2 separate regions of the Homo sapiens genome follow, and region 2 is linked to region 1. The links come from fine-mapping of genetic effects on gene expression. A gene starts in region 1. The other region holds a variant in brackets. All regions are shown on one strand. Distances are from middle to middle. Region 1 holds the start of PABPN1L (PABPN1 like, cytoplasmic). Region 2 overlaps CBFA2T3 (CBFA2/RUNX1 partner transcriptional co-repressor 3).

What was found.
Region 2: its variant is fine-mapped to the expression of PABPN1L in whole blood (TOPMed, PIP 0.97).

Annotation. Positions count from the first base shown.
Region 1 is chr16:88,861,143-88,871,436 of GRCh38, forward strand. PABPN1L (PABPN1 like, cytoplasmic) reads right to left here and starts at 5,518. Exons shown (of 7, transcript NM_001080487.4): 1 at 5,210-5,518; 2 at 4,664-4,799; 3 at 4,421-4,488; 4 at 3,880-3,986; 5 at 3,711-3,798; 6 at 3,095-3,237; 7 at 2,191-2,653. The coding sequence starts at 5,464. The coding sequence ends at 2,614. It overlaps TRAPPC2L (trafficking protein particle complex subunit 2L), which reads left to right. Exons shown (of 5, transcript NM_001318525.2): 5 at 1-1,536. RefSeq lists enhancers at 2,618-3,368, 10,086-10,225.
Region 2 is chr16:88,964,014-88,972,013 of GRCh38, forward strand. All of the region lies in intron 1 of CBFA2T3 (CBFA2/RUNX1 partner transcriptional co-repressor 3), which reads right to left. Among named protein-coding and RNA genes, the nearest start is that of CBFA2T3, 9.2 kb to the right of the region's middle. RefSeq lists enhancers at 2,119-2,178, 3,971-4,030, 5,000-5,855, 7,748-7,887 and a silencer at 3,691-3,740. The variant A/T (reference allele first, on the strand shown) is at 4,110.

The DNA.
Region 1 (10,294 bases):
GGATTTAATTAAGAAGAATTCAACTAAGGACTTTTCTGGGGTGTGGGCAGAGGTTTGGGATCAGATGGCGCAGGTAGCCTGTCCTCAGTTGTCCCAAAGGGGCAGAGGCAGGGGTGCCTGGAGCCAAGAGTTCCTGAGCCTGCAGGACCTGTGACCATGTGGGTCACCCACTGGCTGAACAGGTGGGCTGGTCTGGAGGGGGTGGCCTCCTGAGCCCAGAACCAGCCTAGGATCTAGGGGCACAAGGGGAGCCGGCGTGGCTTCCCACAGGGGAGGGCCCTCCTCTTTCTGGACTTGGCCTCCATTCTTTGCATCTGGCTCAATGTCTGGATTCCGCCCGGCCTTAAAAGGAGCCCTTGTGAAACCTGGGAAGCCTCGTGGCCCCGCGGCGTTGGCTCAGCTGCAGCCCTGGTCCTAAACCTTGGAGCGCAGACTTGAGGCACCCCCTCCTGCCTGTTGGTGCTGAGGGGGTTGGGTGCTGTGTCACTTGATGACGTGGCTGACTACCACCCAGGGCAGCGGCCGAGCCCATAGTGGCGTCAGTGCCGCCGGCGTCCTTGGGGTCCAGCGGTCAAGGCTCAGCCCGCTGAGGGGACCCCCCCGGAGTTGGTTCCAGCACTGGTCCAGGACTGGAGAGTTTCTCAAGGACCTTGAGGACCCCAGAAGCCCTTGCAGCAGGAAAGGCTGTAAGGGGGGGTCAGCCTAGGGCAGGACCTAGGGAGGGGAACTTTCTTGATACATATTTGCCTTTTCATCCCATCTAGCAAGCACAGTGTTAATTTTAGAAATTATAGAAGAAAAAATCAGCAAGGAGTGTGGGAAAACTGCATGCCCCAGGCCTCCCCCGCCCCAGGGTGAATTGGAAGCCCTGGAATGGGCCGAGGCACACCAGGCAGCTGATCTGGGTGCATGTGGGCCACAGACCACTCTCACAAGGTTAAATCTTTAACAAGAGCCTCATGTTTGTTAGGAGAAGGTGGGACCCCAGCCCAAGCACTTCCCCATTGCAGCCTGGCATGAAATCTTTGCCTTTTAGTGGGGATCACTCCTGCCCGAGTCCTGGCTGTGGTGGGGACTCTGCAAGTTGCTAACCCAGCGTCCATTCTCTTTCCTCCGTACTAACAGAACCCCGGTGCCTCTGCCCAGTTCCAATAGCGGGCAGACGAGAGCCATGTCCTGGGCTCCCTTGCAGCCCGGGGTGTGCAGCTGTGGCGTGGAGGTGGGTGGTGCTGGGAGAGACTTGCAGGGAAGCTCCTGTGAAGGGGACTCAGCTGCCACATGCAGGACCCTTCCCCTTTGCCTTCTTCCTGCCTGGAACATGGATGTGATGGCTGGTGCTGGGACAGCTGTCCTGAGAGCGTGAGGAAAGGGTCACACCCTAAGGACAGTGGAGCAGAACACAGGAAGGACCCTGGGCCTTTGCTGACGCAGAACGCGGGAAGGACCCTGGGCCTTTGCTGACATACCAGCCCCAGACTACTTAAATTCAGCTTTTTTTTTAATGTGAGAAAATAAATGCACCCCTCTCTGGTTTAAGCCACTGATTTTTGGGTTTTCTGTTAGGTGCAGCCAGACCCACCTGTAAGTACTTTTTACATGAGGGCGTTTTCACAAGCCTTGTTAGGCAGCATCCCCATTTTAAGCCCAAGGAAACAGTGCCTGATGAGGCGCTGTTAGTCGTGGAATGCTGGAGTCAGGTGTGTGCACATAAGCAGCCTTGGGCTTCTGCGGCCGTGCATGCAGCCAGGGAGCCCGACTGGCTGTGCTTTCAGAGGGGACAGTCGTCAAAGTGCCCAGGACAGAGACCTCCACTTCTGCTTCCTGAGCTTCTGACAAGGGCCAGCGTCCCGGGTGTCTGTGTCACTTGGTGGGGGACATGTGGCAGGGTTACGAGGTGTGGGGGCACCTTGACAGGCAGTTGCAGCCCACCAGGCTGGCAGTGGCATTGACACCGCCTCAGCCTGTGCACGCTGCCCGCTTGCTGTCAGTCGCGAGGGGTCTGGAGCCCTGTCCTCATCCCACAGCCACGGCTCGCCAGCCGCCTTCTGTGTCCCGTCCCACGGGGAGACGCGGAGGGAACCGCGCGCCCCGTCCCACGGGGAGACGCGGAGGGAACCGCGTGTCCCGTCCCAGGGAGAGATGCAAAGGGAACTGTGTCCATGGGGGGAATGCACAGGAGTGCTGCTGCCATTTGCTTTTAAAAAGAGCCCAAGTTTAATAATTTATGCTTCACCATTAAGACACACGTTTCTATTTTTCTTAAAATGACTTAGTTGAAGAGCTGAGCATGCCAACCCCAAGCTGGCCTGGCACTGCCTGGGACTCTGCTCCTCCCCTCCCTCAACACCCAGAGCCCCGCAGATCCCCGTGGGGCCCATGCCAGGCTCACCACCGGGCCGTGGCTGTGACTCGTGGCTGTGGCCTTGGGTCTGGACCACCATACAAGGCCCTACTGGGCCATCCCCCCGCCAAGAGGGGGCCAGTGGCTGCTCTGGACACCCCTCTCCTCTGGCCTCGCCCCCGCGCCACTCCCTGCCCCAGCCCCAGGATGGAGCACAAGTGGTTTACTCCTGATCCAGGCCCCAGCCCCTCTCTCAAAATCGGGTCTTCCCTTTAATACGGTGAAAACCATGGTGAGAATTTTCCACGGGCCCTGCACGGAGAGAGAACACACACTGAGTGGCCTTCCAGAGGAGAAGGGGTGGTGGCCCAGGGCCCCGGGGGACAACAGGATAAGGATGCAGGGAGGTCACCTGGCTGCTCAGGCAATGCCCCAGGGGCCTTTCTGGTGACTCCCAGCTGCTCTCTTGGGAGGGTCCCACGAAAAGGAAAGGCAGTGCCAGGAGAGCCCCTTGGGGCAGCTGTAGCCCACCCTGGGGCCTTTGTGGGAACAAGAAGGGGTCACCTCTCCCAGCAGAGAGGCTACAAAAAGCGCCCCCCCCACCAGCTGATGCAGCAGCCACAGCCCTCACCCAGGCCCCGCCAGGTACATTCCTGCAGCCCCATGAGGAACGAGCTCAGGGACCCCCTCCTGCCCCTGATGCCCTCCACCATGGCCCTCGCCCCCAGGCTGCCCCCACAGGCACCCACTCACCGGTTCTGCCCTTGTGGTCTGAGCCGGGGCCTGCCCTGGAGGCCGCTGTGGGGGAAGGGTGCCCCCCTGGAGCCTGGGTGTCCTCGAAGGCCCCCGCGGTCTGTGGAGCTGATCCCAGGGAAGTTGGTTCTTTTCGGCAGCACCTGGAGCAAAGGCCTGTTTTGAGTCCTCCTCAAGGAGCAGCCGAGACCCAGCTCACAGCCCCCGCAGCCCCCACCACCCCGGAGCATGGGGTCCTGCCCGGCTCAGGATACCATTCGGGCCTACAGGGTTCCCTGCCTTTGCCTACCATAGCTGTCATATGACACCCCGTCACGGCCAGCACCCCTGCAGAGGGGGGGGTCACGGCCAGCACCCCTGCAGAGGGGGGGGTCACGGCCAGCACCCCTGCAGAGGGGGCTCCCGCCCGAGAGGGGACACTTCCCCACCATGCCACTGGCAGACCAAACCCAGCTTCAGGTCCGAGGGTCCCGCCACATCCTGTCCAGGCCCAGCCAAGCACCGTGCCTGAGACACGCTGTGCAGAGAGGAGCCAGCTGGGGCTGCTGTGTGTCCCAGGGCCAGTGGGCCAGCCCCTCTGCGCTCATGTTCCTGGACCTGGGGAGCACCGGCGCACCTTGATGACCCGGCCCCGGAAGAGGCTCTGGTCCAGCTCCACGGCGGCCTGCACGGAGCCCTTGGTGGCAAACTCTATGTAGGCATAACTGAGGGGAGGGGCAGGGAGGGGAGGGGTGAGGCTGGGCCCTGTCCGCATGGCCAGTGCCCCCACCAGGCCCCACACTGACCCCTTGGGGTGTCCAGAGAACTTGTCACACAGGATCGTGACTCGGTGGACCTCCCCACAGCGGCTGAAGTGGGCCTCCAGCTCCTCGGCGGAGCCCCCGTAGTCCACCTGCACCCAGGCCCAGACCAGCATGTGAGGGAGACGCCTGGCCCTGACTCGGGGCCTTCTTGTTAGAGGTGAGGAAAGAAACCCCAAGGCTGGGCCCCGTGGCGGGGATGGCCCCAGGCCTCCACCCCACACCCCCGCTGGGGTTGGAGGGAAGAGAGGAAAGGATATCTCGTATGGAGCGCTTCCTTCTGGAGAGCTGGAGCCTTTTAAAAAGCTTCTCAAAAGTGGAGATTTCATGTGCAACCCCGAATTCCAGCTCATGTTGAAAAACTGGAATATGTGCCCAGGCCAGTGTTTCCTCAAGGTGACGGGGCTGCCCCCAGGGTCAGACCCCCTTCCCAGCAAGGCTGCCTGGCCCATGGCCGGGCGCCAGACCCTCTGGTAGAGATGGGGCCCCATTCGCTGCCTGCCCCTTCACCCCGCCCACCACTCACGTTGCCCACGTAGACGGATCTGTGGTCAGCCTCCACCTTCTCCTCGGGGGTCCCAGAGAGGGGGCAGCCTGCGGAGAACACAGCTCAGGCCCGCAGGCCCTTGGTTCCTTCCTCACTCCTCTCACGGGGAAGGTCGCCCAGGCTTATAGGGGAGGTGACACCTTGGAGCCTGCCAGGCCCAACCTTAATGGAAACTGTGGGACCCTTGCTCAGTGGGGGGCGGCCTGTGCCCTTGGTTCCTACCCACGGTCTCAGGGCTCAGCAGCTGCCCGGCCGCGGTGCCCTCCTCTTCCTCGGCCTGTTGCTGCACTCCTGGAGGCCGTGGCGTCCCCTCGGCCTGCTCCATGGCACACACCTTCATCTTGATGGCCTCCAGCTCCTGCCGACACACGGCCCTGAGCCGGGCAGGCAGCCTGCAGGCTCTGCTCAAGGAAGGTGGGTGTGTGGCCTGCCAGCTCCAGCAGAGGGTCACAGCCCCAAGGGGCAGCCCTTCTCTGGACAGGGACACTCCTTCCTGGGGCAGCTGGCTGGGGATGAACTCGCCCCTGCAGAGAAGCCCCCGAAACCGCACCTCAAGGGCCCTTCCCCAGGCGAGAGAGGCCACCTTGACCCTGCAGTCTGTGTGGCTGGGGGCGGGGGGTCTCCTTGCCACCTTCGTCCAGGCAGGTGGGCAATGGCCCTCTCCCCTCCTAAGTCAGCTGCAGCCATCCGTCACCCAGACCCCGTGTCTCCACCAGCCCCTGTGCCCCAGGTCCCCTGAGATCCCCAGGGCCTCCACACAGCTGTTACCTGGTCAGGCAATGGGCACTCAGCCAGGTTCTCTTGCTCCAGCAGAGACAGCAGAAAGCCTGCATCCCCATCCTGGTCTTCCTCTGCATCCTCTTCCTCCTCTTTCTCCTCCTTCCCTTCCCCACCCTCTGGCCCCAGAATCTCCTTGGTCTCGTTCCAGGCCCCCCAGCCCTGGGCCTCAGGGTCTGAGGAGACCGTCTGGAGCCAGGCCTGAGTCGGGGGTGGGAAGAGAGAGCGGCTCGGGAAGGGCCACATGGTAGAGGGGCAGGAGGAAGGTGGGCCAGGCGAGGCCTCCCCTCCACTCCCCTCGCGTCCGCACCTGCCCAGGCTCTCCTGGAGTTTTAAGCCCTCCCCTGAGGCCAGCTGCTCCCACTAGAGCATTTGCAAAGGCTGAGTGGGGCTGAGCTTCCAGCCTTGGCTCCCGGCCCCGCCCCTTCCCTGTCACTCGGACAGGTACCTCCAGGACACTCTCCCTGGAGGAAGGAGAGGCTGAGTTGAGTGGGGGTCACCGGTCTCTTCTGCTTCCGCCTGGCCACGCTGTGGCTCACTGGAGCCTTGGTCTGTGACAGGGTTCACACCTCAGCAGCATCCACACGGCACGAACGCCACACTGCATGAACACTCGATCTAAGTGGGAACACGGGAGTGGTTTCTTCTAGTACCAGGGACCAAGCAGGCTGGAGAGGTGGCTTCCGACCAGGAGAGGCAGGGCCTGAGCAGAGACCGAGAGCAGGTGCATGGGATGAGAGGGCCGAGGCAGGTTGGGGCGGGGTCCTGGGCCCAGAGGAGGGGCAGCAACAGCTGTCTCTGCATCCTGACCCCCATGGAGTCCCCAGGGACCCTTGCCTCCCTAACCCTTATTCTGGGCCTTTTTTTTTTTTTTCTTTTTTTTTTAGGCAGGAGTCTTGCTTTGTTGCCAAGTCTGGAGTGCGGTGGCGCGATCTCGGCTCACGGCAACCTTTGCCTCCCAGGTTCGGGTGATTCTCCTGCCTCAGCCTCCTGAGTAGCTGGGATTACAGGCACCTGCCACCATGCCCAGCTAATTTTTTTTGTCTTTTTAGTAGAGACAGGGTTTCACCATGTTGCCCAGGCTGGTCTCGAACTCCTGACCTCAGGTGATCCGCCCGACTCGGCCTCCCGAAGTGCTGGGATTACAGGCGTGAGCACCGCACCTGGTCTGGGTCATCTTTTAGGTGGGAGCCACTTCCATGAGGCCAGAATTATTCTGCTGTGGGGCGGGGGCTCCGTGGGGAGTGACGGCGTGAGTTATTGTGGGGCGGGGTCTCCGTGGGGAGTGACGGCGTGAGTTACTGTGGCGGAATTCAGTGGGCATCCGGTGGTGTCTGCACCTGGCTTCACCCATGCAGGGTTGCAGCAGGAGGTGACCCGTGTCCGCCCTTGCGCCTCCCTCTGCACCTGCCACCGCGGCTGCTGGAGTCTGCTCTGGCCTTCATCTCCAGTGCTGCCGTCTCCCACCCACTCTGTGAAGGACTCGGGGCCAGGGGGTCATGCATGGCTCTTACCCCTGCCATTGGTGGTGGGAGACGGGGCCCCCTGCACAGCTCCTACCCCCAGGCCGAGGCCATCCTCTCTGTGACTGCACCCCGGTGTTTAGCCAGTGGGGCTGGGATTCCTGGGAATTTGGGACTGGGGGAGGAGAGAGAGACAGGGCGTGGCCTAGGCTGGAGCTGCACTGCTGCACCATGCACCACCCACGCAGGGCGGCCCTTCCTCCATCTTGGGCTGGGGGCTCGGGGAGCAGGTGGACATGGAGGCTGCCACAGCCTGGGAACCCAGGCTCCTGCACCCAGTCTGTTCTCACCTCTGTAAAAGCCAGAAGGTGTCTGAGATGGGTCTCAATCAATCAGTTTAGAGGTGTATCTTGCCAAGGTTAAGGGTGCACCCAGGAAAAAGAAACACGAAGCCACAGGCAACATCTGTGCTCTGCTTTTTCCAAAGAGGGTTTGGAGGCCGGGCATGGTGGCTCACGCCTATAATCCCAGCAGTCTGGGAGGCCGAGGTGAGCGGATCACTTAAGGTCAGGAGTTCAAAACCAGCCTGGCCAACATGGTGAAACCCTGTCTCTACTAAAAATACAAAAACAATTAGCCAGGCATGGTGGCGGGCGCCTGTAATCCCAGATACTTGGGAGGCTGAGGCAGGAGAATCACTTGAACCCGGGAGGCAGAGGTTGCAGTGAGCCGAGATCGCGCCACTGCACTCCGGCCTGGGCGACGGAGTGAGACTGTCTCAAAAAACAAAAACAAAAAAACCCAAAGAGGGTTTGGAGACTTTTATACTTAAAGGGAAAGAGCGGGCAGGAGGGGAACACAGGAAGGAAAGAAAAGGGAGGGCGGATAAAAGGCAAGTGGTAGCGTTCCTTTGAATCTCTGATTGGCAGTCACCAAATGCACATTTTGAAATGTGGAAGGTGGGGGTAGAGAAGAGAATTACGTAGCCCCACGCTCAGCGACTCTGCGTTTCCACAGAAGATAAAACTGCCACAGGGAATAGGAAGCTGGCAGGTTCGCATTCGCCTCCGGTGAGCGGAGGGTAACGTTAGCTCTGTCCTTTGTCCCATACCTGGGAAGATAAGCTGCTAGATCACACTATCTGGGTGGGATCCAGCAGAACTGTTTCAGAGCCAAGATCTTGGGACCCACAAGGAATTTCCCTGTAAGCGCGATGCGAGGAGGCACAGGCTTCTTCATCTTCGTGGCTGTCCAATTAGGAAGAAAATGGGAGGCAGGTGTGTGTGATTCGGCTCCCAGCTTGACTTTTCCCTTTGGCTTAGTGCGTTTTAGGTCCCGAAATTCTGTTTTCTTTTCCCACCTCCAGGAGGCTGACTGAAGACCATGCTGTCACCCCATCTGTTCACCACCCAGAGGATTTTCTGGGGCAGGCTCATGAGGTCGGGGAGGAATGGGCCTTGTCTGGAACCTGGCTATGGCCCTGGACGCCCCTTCCCCTCTCCCTGGCTCCGCACAGCCACACACTTACGTGTGCGTGGTCCCTGGACGCTGTTCCCCCTGCGAACACGGTGCCACTGTTTCCGGGAGGGCTGCCGGGCTGCTCCTCCTCCCTCGAGAGCCGCTGTCCTCACGCCTTTCCTGCTGTCCGTCCAGTGTTGATGACTTGGCCAGCTCTCCCCTTAGAAACCAAAGCTCCTCAGGGGCAGCGCCCACATCTGCACCGAGGACAGGTACGCTGGGTGGAGTGCGGCCTCAGCCTGGGATCCTCCTGTTGGGATGGAGCCCCCTGCCCCGTGTGTCTGTGCCTGTGTGTTGGAGGGTCTGCCAGCACCCGTGCCTCCACCTCCCTGTCAGAGGCAGGATTGCAACCAGTTCCATCCAAGACCAGAGTCTGCTGGACTCGGCCCAGGCCCTGACGCATGCCCCTCTGAGCTCGGGCCCCGGCCATGGAAAACCTTGTCATCCTCACCCTGTCTGAGATTGCTGACACACAAGGCCCGGCCAGGGCTCCTGCCAGCTGCCTGGCAGGGGACAGACGGCTCCGACCCTGGCCTTTCCAGTGACACTCTTCAAATACACCCTGTTCCAGAGCCGGGCCTGAGGATTCATGGCAGCCTGGCCCCTGGGGCCCCAGCGCCCAGGACAACTCCTATTCCAGACAGGATCCGTGTGTGACCCAACACCAGGGCCCCATGGGGGTGGCTGAGAGGGGCAAGCCGTCCCTTCCTGTGCTGTCCACCCTCAGGTCCCCTGTGTCCCCTCAGTTTTCATTTCTTTTTTTTTTTTGAGATGGAGTCTCACTCTGTTGCCCAGACTGGAGTGCAGTGGCACGATCTCGGCTCACTGCAACCTCCACCTCCTGAGTTCAAGGGATTCTCCTGCCTCAGCCTCCCAAGTAGCTGAGATTACAGGCACCCGCCACCACACCCAGCTAATTTTTTGTATTTTTAGAAGAGATGGGGTTTCACCATGTTGGCCAGGCTGGTCTTGAACTCCTGACCTCAGGCAATCCACCCGCCTCGGCCTCCCAAAGTGCCGGGATGACAGGCGTGAGCCACCGTGCCTGGCCTCCCCTCAGTGTTGTCTGTGTCCCCTGAGGTCCCCTGTGTCCCCCATCGGGGTCGGAGGTGTCATGGCCCCAGCCCCAGCACTGTCTGAGGTGGGGCTGCTCAGGCAGGGGCTCCAGTCTTGGAATCCTCAGGACCATCTCCCGGGTGTAAAGTTGTTGGGACCCCCCCAAAGTCCCCTTTGCAGGCTCAGCCGTTGCCAGCCCTGCAGGGACCCTCGTGGCTGGGGCTGCTGCTCCTCCCTGCCTGTGTGCTCCCGCCCTGCCTCTTCCCCGTCGTGCTCCCGCCCTGCCTCTTCCCCGTCGCCCCAGCCCCACGTCACACACTGGCCTGTTTGTCCCTGCAGTGTGCGTGGTGCATGGGGAGGCCCCGCCCTACCAGGCACGGAGGAGCCCCAGCAGGTAATTAGTGAATTCACGGGTGAGACGAGGCTCAGCCGAAGCCTCCTGGGACCCAAGGAGAGGAACAGCCAGGCGACAGCGAACGTTCGCTTTATTACACGGACACGGCGCTAACCCGACTATTGCATCTCACAGCATCTACAGGCCAAACCCATAGTACGTCAGACGGAGCGGCGAGGGCCACCTCGCAGCCCTGCACAGCCTGCAGACCCAGGGCATGGGCTTCTCACAACTACAGAAAACAACTCAACTCCTCTGGGAGAGTCAAAAAAAAGAGGAGGAGAAAGTAGAGAGTAAGTCCCCTCCCCACCAGGCTGCACATGGCTGTGCCCCCGCCTGGTCCTCACCGGCCCGACCCCCTCGGCCCTGGCAGATGGGGTTGGGGAGCTGACAGCTGGCCTGGCGGGGCTCCCCACCCCAGCCAGGTGGGGACAAGGGAGGCCTGTTGCCGTCATTGACGTATTTCAAAAGCAGGTTTCACTCTGAGTACTGACGCTGAGTTCCCGTTCCTCTGGGTCTTTGGGAAGCTACTCCGGGGCTTGGCTGGATTGAAACATAAAGAACAGAAAGTGTCCAAAATGGAGTTTCCTAGAACTTCGGGAAAATGGAGCAGGGGTTGTCAGCAGCGCCCTGGCCTTATCTCTG
Region 2 (8,000 bases), 100 kb after region 1:
AGCTCCCAGCCCTGCACCTGTGAGGTAGGTGGCACAGCTCTATGGGGGTCTTTAAAGGGCCACGCACACAAGACCATCTGCATACCTGGGCCGATCGGCTTAAAGGAATCCATATGTGGGTCTTCACCTTCCAGATTGTTCTGCAAACACGGCTTGGGGTCAGCTGTGTGCTGCTCCTGCCTGCTCTTCCCCCAATTCATGGGTTGCCTCTCTCTAGCATGAGTCTGATGACAGGGCTTCGACCCACCAGTGAAAACCTGGGGCAGGCCCCATGCCCTGCCTGCCTCCTGTTCGGAAACCACAGACCCAAAGGTGTAAAAAATCACGTTGACTTCTGGCCCTCCTGGTGTTAGCCAGGCTGCCAAGGGCCCAGTGGCCTCTTTTGACTTTTAATTTACTGCTGGTGAGGCTTCAGTTAGGGTTAGGGTGCAGAAAACTGACAAGTTGCAAGCTACTTGTTGTTCTGAAGAAAGATTGCACTTCACTAATTCCCACTCGTCAGGTTCCGTGTGGCTTTCCTTCTTCATGGGGTCTTTAATGTCCCTCGTCCCCTCTGAATCACCTGGGCTGCCCGACTGGCTCCCTCATCGCGGAATAATACACCTTTCACACATGCTTACTGTATGTGTGTATAAGAACTATGTTTTTAAGATTTGAAAAATATACTTTGACCTTTCCTTCCTGCTTCCTTACCTTTTTATCTTCCCATCCATCTATCCACCCACCAACCCATCTATCCATCCACCCACTCATCCATCCATCCACCCATCCATCCACCATCTATCCATCCAGTCACCCATCTATTCATCCATCTATCTATCCACCCACCCATCCATCCACTCACCCACCATCTATCCAACTGTCCATCCATCCATCCATCCACCATCTATCCACTTATCCATCCATCCATCCATCCATCCATCCATCCATCCATCCATCTATCCATCTATCCATCCATCCACCTACCCCACCCACCATCTATTTATCCATCTATCCATCCATCCACCCACCACCTATGCACTTCTCCATCCATCCATCCATCCACCCATCCATCCATCTATCCACCCACCCATCTATCCATCCATCCATCCATCCATCCATCCATCCACCCACCCACCCACCCACACATCCATCCATCTATATCACAATTAGAATTCAAAGTGAGGCATTTGGATCATTTAATAACATGCTTATTTGAATTAATATCTGACAAACATCAGTCTGGGCAGATTGTTTTTCAGTGAGGACCAGTTCTGCCCTTTGTTTTTAAGGCAGCATTTCTATAAATCAAGTGAGCTAAATGTGCAGATTTTCATAAGACCAGATGCCAAACACTGGTAACATATTAGGTATGCTAGAAAATACAGTTTTTGAGACTGTTTAATCAATGTTTAGAGGCTGCAAATTGGCCCATGTGGCACCATTGCCAAGGGTCCTGTGTCCAGCCTTTGGTTTAGAAGGATACTTGGTGCGCAGCGCCAGCCACAGGCCCCGAATCCTGCTTCTACAACCCAGGGGGCTAGGTCCCTGCGGGGCAGAGAGTTTGCAGAACAGGTGTGTGCCACGGCCAACACATGCCTCACACACTGTATGCAGCTGTTCTTCTGTGACCCAGTGGTGAGGTTGCGGGGTGCAGCTGTCACCTTATTTATTTTAACAACGTCTTGTCCACAGATACCTGTCATGTTTGAAAACCTCTCTAGTGGCTCCTGGGCCACCATTATCTGCCAAAAACGAAGCAGCATAAGGTCTGTGTGTGGCCAGGCTGGGTGAGGCTGCTTTGTAAGCAATTTCATCTTATAGGGGAACTTGGCTTGTCAAAAAAAAGTTTTAGGGAGCTCGCAAACAAAAGCATTAAAAGCCCACAGAACCACCGGCTTTGAGAATCGGGCCTGGTGCTTGGCACCTGACAGGTCCTCTCCACTGTGCCCGGTCCCTCCTCTGTGGGCTGATGTCAGGGGAGGGGACGGGGGCCCATTCGGCAGCAGGAACAGAGAGACCCCACAGAGCATGGGTGCATACAGAGTTCCCCCTGGGCCACTCCTTGGCCAGGGAAAGCAGACCTCGCCTCCTCTCGTAGCTGCAAGGTGGGGCCCCTCTGGACGGAGTGGGCTTTCCCGGTTTGTGTGGGTCGCTCTGCTCTGAGGGTCACTCTGCTCACTGGCCTGCACAGTCCCAGGACTTCCCCGACCTGAGTCACAGCACGGCTTCCTGAAACACATCTTGGCCACATTAGGCCGTCTCTAGGGACAGACTCCAGAGCAGCCAGCTAACAGGGCTGCCATTTTACCCTGGTCCTTGGCAGGAGTGAGGCCTGTGCCGGGGTAGGGGGGTGGCAGCCCCTGTGAGTGCCCACAGAGGAGAGCAGAGCGGGGGATCGCGAGTCCACAGACCTCCCGGCCCCTCTCCCACCTGTGCAGCATGGCTGGGCTACCTCCCCTGCCACACCCTCATCCCACCTGGGGTGACCACCAAACCCATGTCCAGACGAGGACCAGGCCCAATCAACCTCTGGCCTCCCATGAACTCAGTAGTGGAAGCAGTAGAAGCACCCGGTGCCAGGCCCTGCCCAGCGCCCAGCTTCCCAGCCTCCCTTGGAGGCCGGCCCTGGTTTCCACAAACAAGGAATTCCTCCAGGAGCAATGGACACTCTTGACCTCCAGAACCACTGCCTGCCATCACCAACACCTGCGCTGGACAGAGGCCTTTCTGAACACGAGCTGGGTGGGTTGGGGTGGGGGGCGTCTCCAGTGACTCCCGTGCCCTGGCCCTGCCTGGCTTGCAGAGCCACCCAGATGGAAGTCGGATGCAGCACGCCCACTGCTGCCCCTCAGAGACCAGGCGCTCATTTCCCCCAGGAAGCCGGGATAGGGCCCACACCCACCCTGGACTCTGGAAGCCCAGGATGAGAACTTCGTATCACACTCTAGTCCCTGTGGCCAATGTCTTGTGTTTGCCTTGGAGAAACCATGTGGGCCCCAGGGGACGAGGGAAAGCATCCTTGATTGAAGCATTGTTTGTAGCACGGGAAATTGACGCACTCAACCTCTCTCCATAGGGAAGCTGAGAACAGTGCGCTGGTGTGTGCCACCCCCAACCCCCAACCCCCGAGGTGCCACTCGGCCCCGACACGCGGCAGCACCATGCCACCCCCCAGCCCCCGAGGTGCCACTCGGCCCCGACACGAGGCAGCGCCATGCCACCCCCCCAGCCCCCGAGGTGCCACTCGGCCCCGACACGAGGCAGCACCATGCTCAATGCAGTCAGCCTCGCAGGTGTCGAGAGAGGAAATTGCAAAGGAAAATGAGAATTCGATGCCTTTTCTGTAACTGTGCGAGACACACTGCCTGGGAGCGACGGGGACGGGGCAGGATGCCTGGGGACGGCTTTCCACACCCTAAGTGCTGCCATGCGTCCACCTGTTCAGTTTTCACAGATGTGCCGGAGACGGGGACTGCTATTGCCCCATTTACCGATGAGGAAGCCGTGGTGGGGTGTGGGGTGGCTAAGCCTCTGAGCTAGGTCCCCCCAACCCCTTGATCCCATCTCGCCGCCCCCAGGTGGGGTGGCCTTCCGGGCTGGGGACACTGGACCTACAGGAATTCCTTTCTATAAAGAAGAGGGAAGGAAGGAGCAGGCCGGGGACGGGGACGGCGTGCTGCCCTGCGTGGCTCCCGCGACCTGGCTTCTCCTGGGGGGTTAAAGATCAGCCACAGAGCACAGGGGTGAGGGTCAGGCGCACACTGCCTGGGGGCTCGTCGCGGCTCAGCCCTCACACTGCCCCTTCCTGTCCAGGGCACCGGGGAACTCAGGACGCCCCCTGCCCCGGAGCAGCGCGTCCAGCGGGGGTCGGCGTGAGCTGTGTGGAGGCGCCCACCCTCCCTTGCAGCCAGAGGTAGGAAGTAGAAGGGAAAGAGGAGAGGTCGCTCTGTGGCCTCCAGAATGTCACCATTTTCACACATGTTCAGTTTATAAACTTTTAAGCTTTCTGCATCCTTCTTTTCGCACCATGACTAAAGTGACTGAAATTCTGTGGGTTCGACGGGTCATGGGGCTGAGTTGGGACCATGTGACCACAGGGCTTTGATGAGGAACCCCCCATACCGCCC[A/T]TGCTGGGGCCCACCTGGAGGAAATAGGCCCAGAGAGGCACGCCCTGGTGAGAGGCCGAATAAGGGTGGACCACAGGGGACTGCCAGGGGCCCTGGCCGCAGGACTGCCCGTCCCAGCTGTCTCTGGCCCTGGGGAGGGGCTCAGTAGGGAGGGGCGGGAAGCACCTGGCAGTTTCAGTTTCGCCAGGAAGCGGCTGCCTGCTGTCTCCCTTCCCACCCGCCGCCCGGAGAGCCCCCCAGGTGGGGACGGCCCCTTGCACTGCAGACGAGGAAGCCCCAGCTGAGGGGCCGCAGGACAAGCCTCACGGCTCCTGGCAGTGGGGACAGAGCCAGGCCCAGCCTCAGCTGCGTCTCAGGAGGACCTGGGGTGGGAGAAGCCCCTGGGGGCCGAGAGCAGATGAGGGCAGATCTGACTGGCATCTTCTGTCACCTGCTGGTGACCTTTTAGAACACGTGGTCCCAACCCTTGGTCTAGAATATGCTGCCGTGTTGGAGGGGCAGAAGCAGCTGAGACGGCTGTCCGTCCCCCGCCTGTCAGTCCGTCTGTCTGGGGCTGGGGGTGTCAGGACAACACCCACCACTGCAGGCCCCCTTGGGAATAAGCGGCAAGAAGCTTCGGGGTCCAGTTTGCACCGAGCCCCTCCAGCGGGGACGCCTCTTTCATTTCTGCACCCTGCGCCTGGCACGGAGGGGTGTGCGGTCAGCGGGTGGGGGCTGATTGGGTGACTTGCAGTGACAGGGTGGCGAGGCCCTGGACCTGAGTGCCATGTGACCCCCATGGACCATAACCCCTCTGAGCTCCAGGGTCTGCAGCGCTGCAGGCCTCACACAAATCGGGGGCCAGGAGCCTAAGATCTGCTCTCTAAATCTGGGAGCCCAGCCAGAGCAAGCCCTCAGCAGACCCAGCCCCAGTGTGCGGCCTGGTGCCCCCGTTTTGAGGAATCCCCCATCCTCTCGTGAGCAGTCGGCTGGGTCAGGCTGGCTCCACCGGCTCTGGGATTCGGCTGCAGCCTGGCCCGGATGCCGCCGGGGTCACCGCCATCTGGAGTGAGGGGCTGCAGCGGACACGGCTGGAGGGACGGTTGCAAGGTCCCCTCCCCCACTCTGTCCCCCTCAGGTCTGTGAAGTCGGGACTTTCTAGACACTCAAAACACACCTGGACTTGGGAGCTCAGGAGGAAGCTCCGGGAGCCCACAGGGTGGGGTGAATTCTCCAGTTCCTTCTCTACTGGGCTCCCTCCCGGCTGGTGCCTCCTGGCCTTGGCAGGGGTGGGAGGCCTGGTGTCTGCAGGGCCAGCTGCGGGGGTCGCAAGAGCGGGGCCCCTTGGGAAGGAGTGCCAGGAAGAGGGTCTTTCCTCACCAAATCCCACCCCAGCCTTCAGGAGGGGCTCGCCGCCACCCCGTTTTACAAACAGGAGACAGGCTGGGGTCAGCGTGGCCGGTGGACAGCAGTTTCCATTCCCACCATGGTCGGGTCCAGCCACTGCCCCTCACAGACCAGGGAGCCGAGGGAGAGGGGGGCGGGGCCGGCCTGACGACGCACAGACCTCAGCACCGCCCGTGGGGCTGCATCTTGCAGGCTCAGGGCAGCAGGCCAGGCTTGGCTGCCAGGGTGCGAGTGGCAGGTGCCGGGGGGCAGGTGCTGGGGCTCCCGGTGGGCCCTACTAGAGGGCACCGTGGACCCGGTCCAGTTAGGGTGAGCATGGCCTGGGGGGTTGCGATTTGGCAGAGCCCCCGATCTTCTGCAAGGCTGTGGGTTCACCCCATCCCCCTCCACAGGGGCCTCCCAAAATGAGCCCCAGAAGCTGTGGCTGTTGGAGGCTTCTGCCATGTCTTCTCAGGAGGGCATGCCTTCTGGCCCCACTCCTCCCAGGGAGAAAGCCACACTTGGGGCCCTCACCCCAGGAGTCCTCGTCTCCACAAAGGGGGCGCCTGGAAAAGCTGATGGAAATTCACGTCAGTGGGAGGCAGGCCTGGGGGAGGGGTTGGCCCACTCTCCAAAAGCTGCCAGTGAAACGGCTGCTCTGCAGCTGTCCTGGGCCGAGAGAGGATTTCACTCCAGGAGGCGGTGGCGGCGGCCCCAAGCCGGCAGCCTTGCTGTGTGATCAGCTGGGTGTCAGGATGTGCTTGATCCAGGGGTCGGCGACGCGGGTGTCAGGCAGCACCTGCGTGGGGCTTCCTCAGGTGAAGCAAGGAGACGGAGAGGTGGGTTCGGAGGGGCTCAGCTGAGGGCGCGGCTCTCGTCTCAGAGCAGGGCGTGCAGTGGGGTCCCTCTCCTGAGATGCGACCTCAGCTGCCTTGCCTCTGGGAGGGTCCCTGGCAGAGATGCACAGCCTGGGAGGACGTGGCCCACCCCAGCCCCGCTGTGTGAGCTCGGCTGGTTTCCTGACCTTTCTGATTTGTGTCCTCATCTGAGGTCAGCGATGCCCTTGAAGTGTTGCCGGGTGAAAGCCGGGAAGGGATTGCCGTCTGCCCCTTCCCTCCGGGGCCACAGGGCCTGAGTTCCTGGGAAAACTGTGGAGCCAGTCCCTGCCTCAGCACCAGCAGGATGCACACAGCCAAGTAACAACTGAAGGACCAGGAGCACGGAGGCCTCGCCTCGCCTGGAGATGGAATAGACTCACGCCTTCCAGGGCTCAGCACCCTCCTGGGCCAGCACCGTCTGCTGAGGGCCCTGCTGCAAGCAGGCACCAGAGCCCCTGTCTCGTGCAGCCGACGCTGGGGGCCGGGGGATGAGTAGTACGTAAGGGGGCAGCTGGTTTTTCTCATGGGGTGACAGATTGAAGGAGAGGAACACCGAGGGAAGGAGGTCGGTCGGGAGGGGGCTCCTCGGCGAGGGCATAGCACAGGCACGGGCTCGGGAGGCTTGTGGAGCCGCCAGGCAGCCGGGGCTGTGAGTGCCGGAGGCCGACGCGGTGGGGTCGGGCCGGGAGGGCTGGGCCGTGGGTGTGCGCAGGTGTGATGTGGCTGACGTGTTTTCATCAACTCAATTTTCCTTTTTTTTTAAAGACACGGTCTCCCTCTGTCATCCAGGCTGGAGTGCAGGGGCGCAATCTTGGCTCACTGCAACCTCTGCCTCCTGGGTTCACACGATTCTCCCGCCTCAGCCTCCCGAGTAGCTGGGATTACAAGCACCCACTACCACACTCAGCTAATTTTTGTATATTTACTAGAGGCAGGGTTTTGCCATGTTGGCCAGACTGGTCTCGGAATCCTGGCCTCAAGTGATCCGCCTGCCTCGGCCTCCCAAAGTGCTAGGATTACAGGCATGAGTCACGGCACCTGGCCTTGATTTTTCAAATGACATGGTGACCCAGCCACTCTCTGCCCACCTGAGAGAGCTGCCTGGGGCCTGGGGTGGGCAGAGCTGGGAGAGGAAGCCCCTCGGTGGGGTCCCCGCTGTGGACCTGTGTCCTGGGCAACTGCCCGACAGGCCTGGGAGCGGCCGTCCTGGGGGTGGACTTGGGGGTTTTGTGCTGAGAACTTCATTGGCGCCTGCTGCAGGCCGGCCTCTGGCTTTGTAACAGTCGACCTGAGTGACCCAGTCCACAGCTCCCAGCTGGAGTTCCTTCAAAGGGTGGGTGGGCGGCCCTCAGACAGGCCTCTCTTTTCCCTGCTTCTCTCCAGCTGCCCCTGGCCGACGTCTCCTCGGAGGAGCACTGGCCGGCGAGTCCTGGCTCAGCTGTGACCAATCGGCCTCTCCCTGAGGCCGCTCTTCCTGCCTGCGCCTCCCCGGTCAACTGCAGTCACGGAAGTGAAAGTGCCGGAAAACCCCTGCCCAGCGCCCAGGCAGGTTAACGGGACGCACTGCTTCTCGGTCCACATGTGGTGAGAAGTGAAAGTTGTCTTCGCCTAAAGAGTGGCCTCCTAGAGCCGCCCCCATGGGGCCACT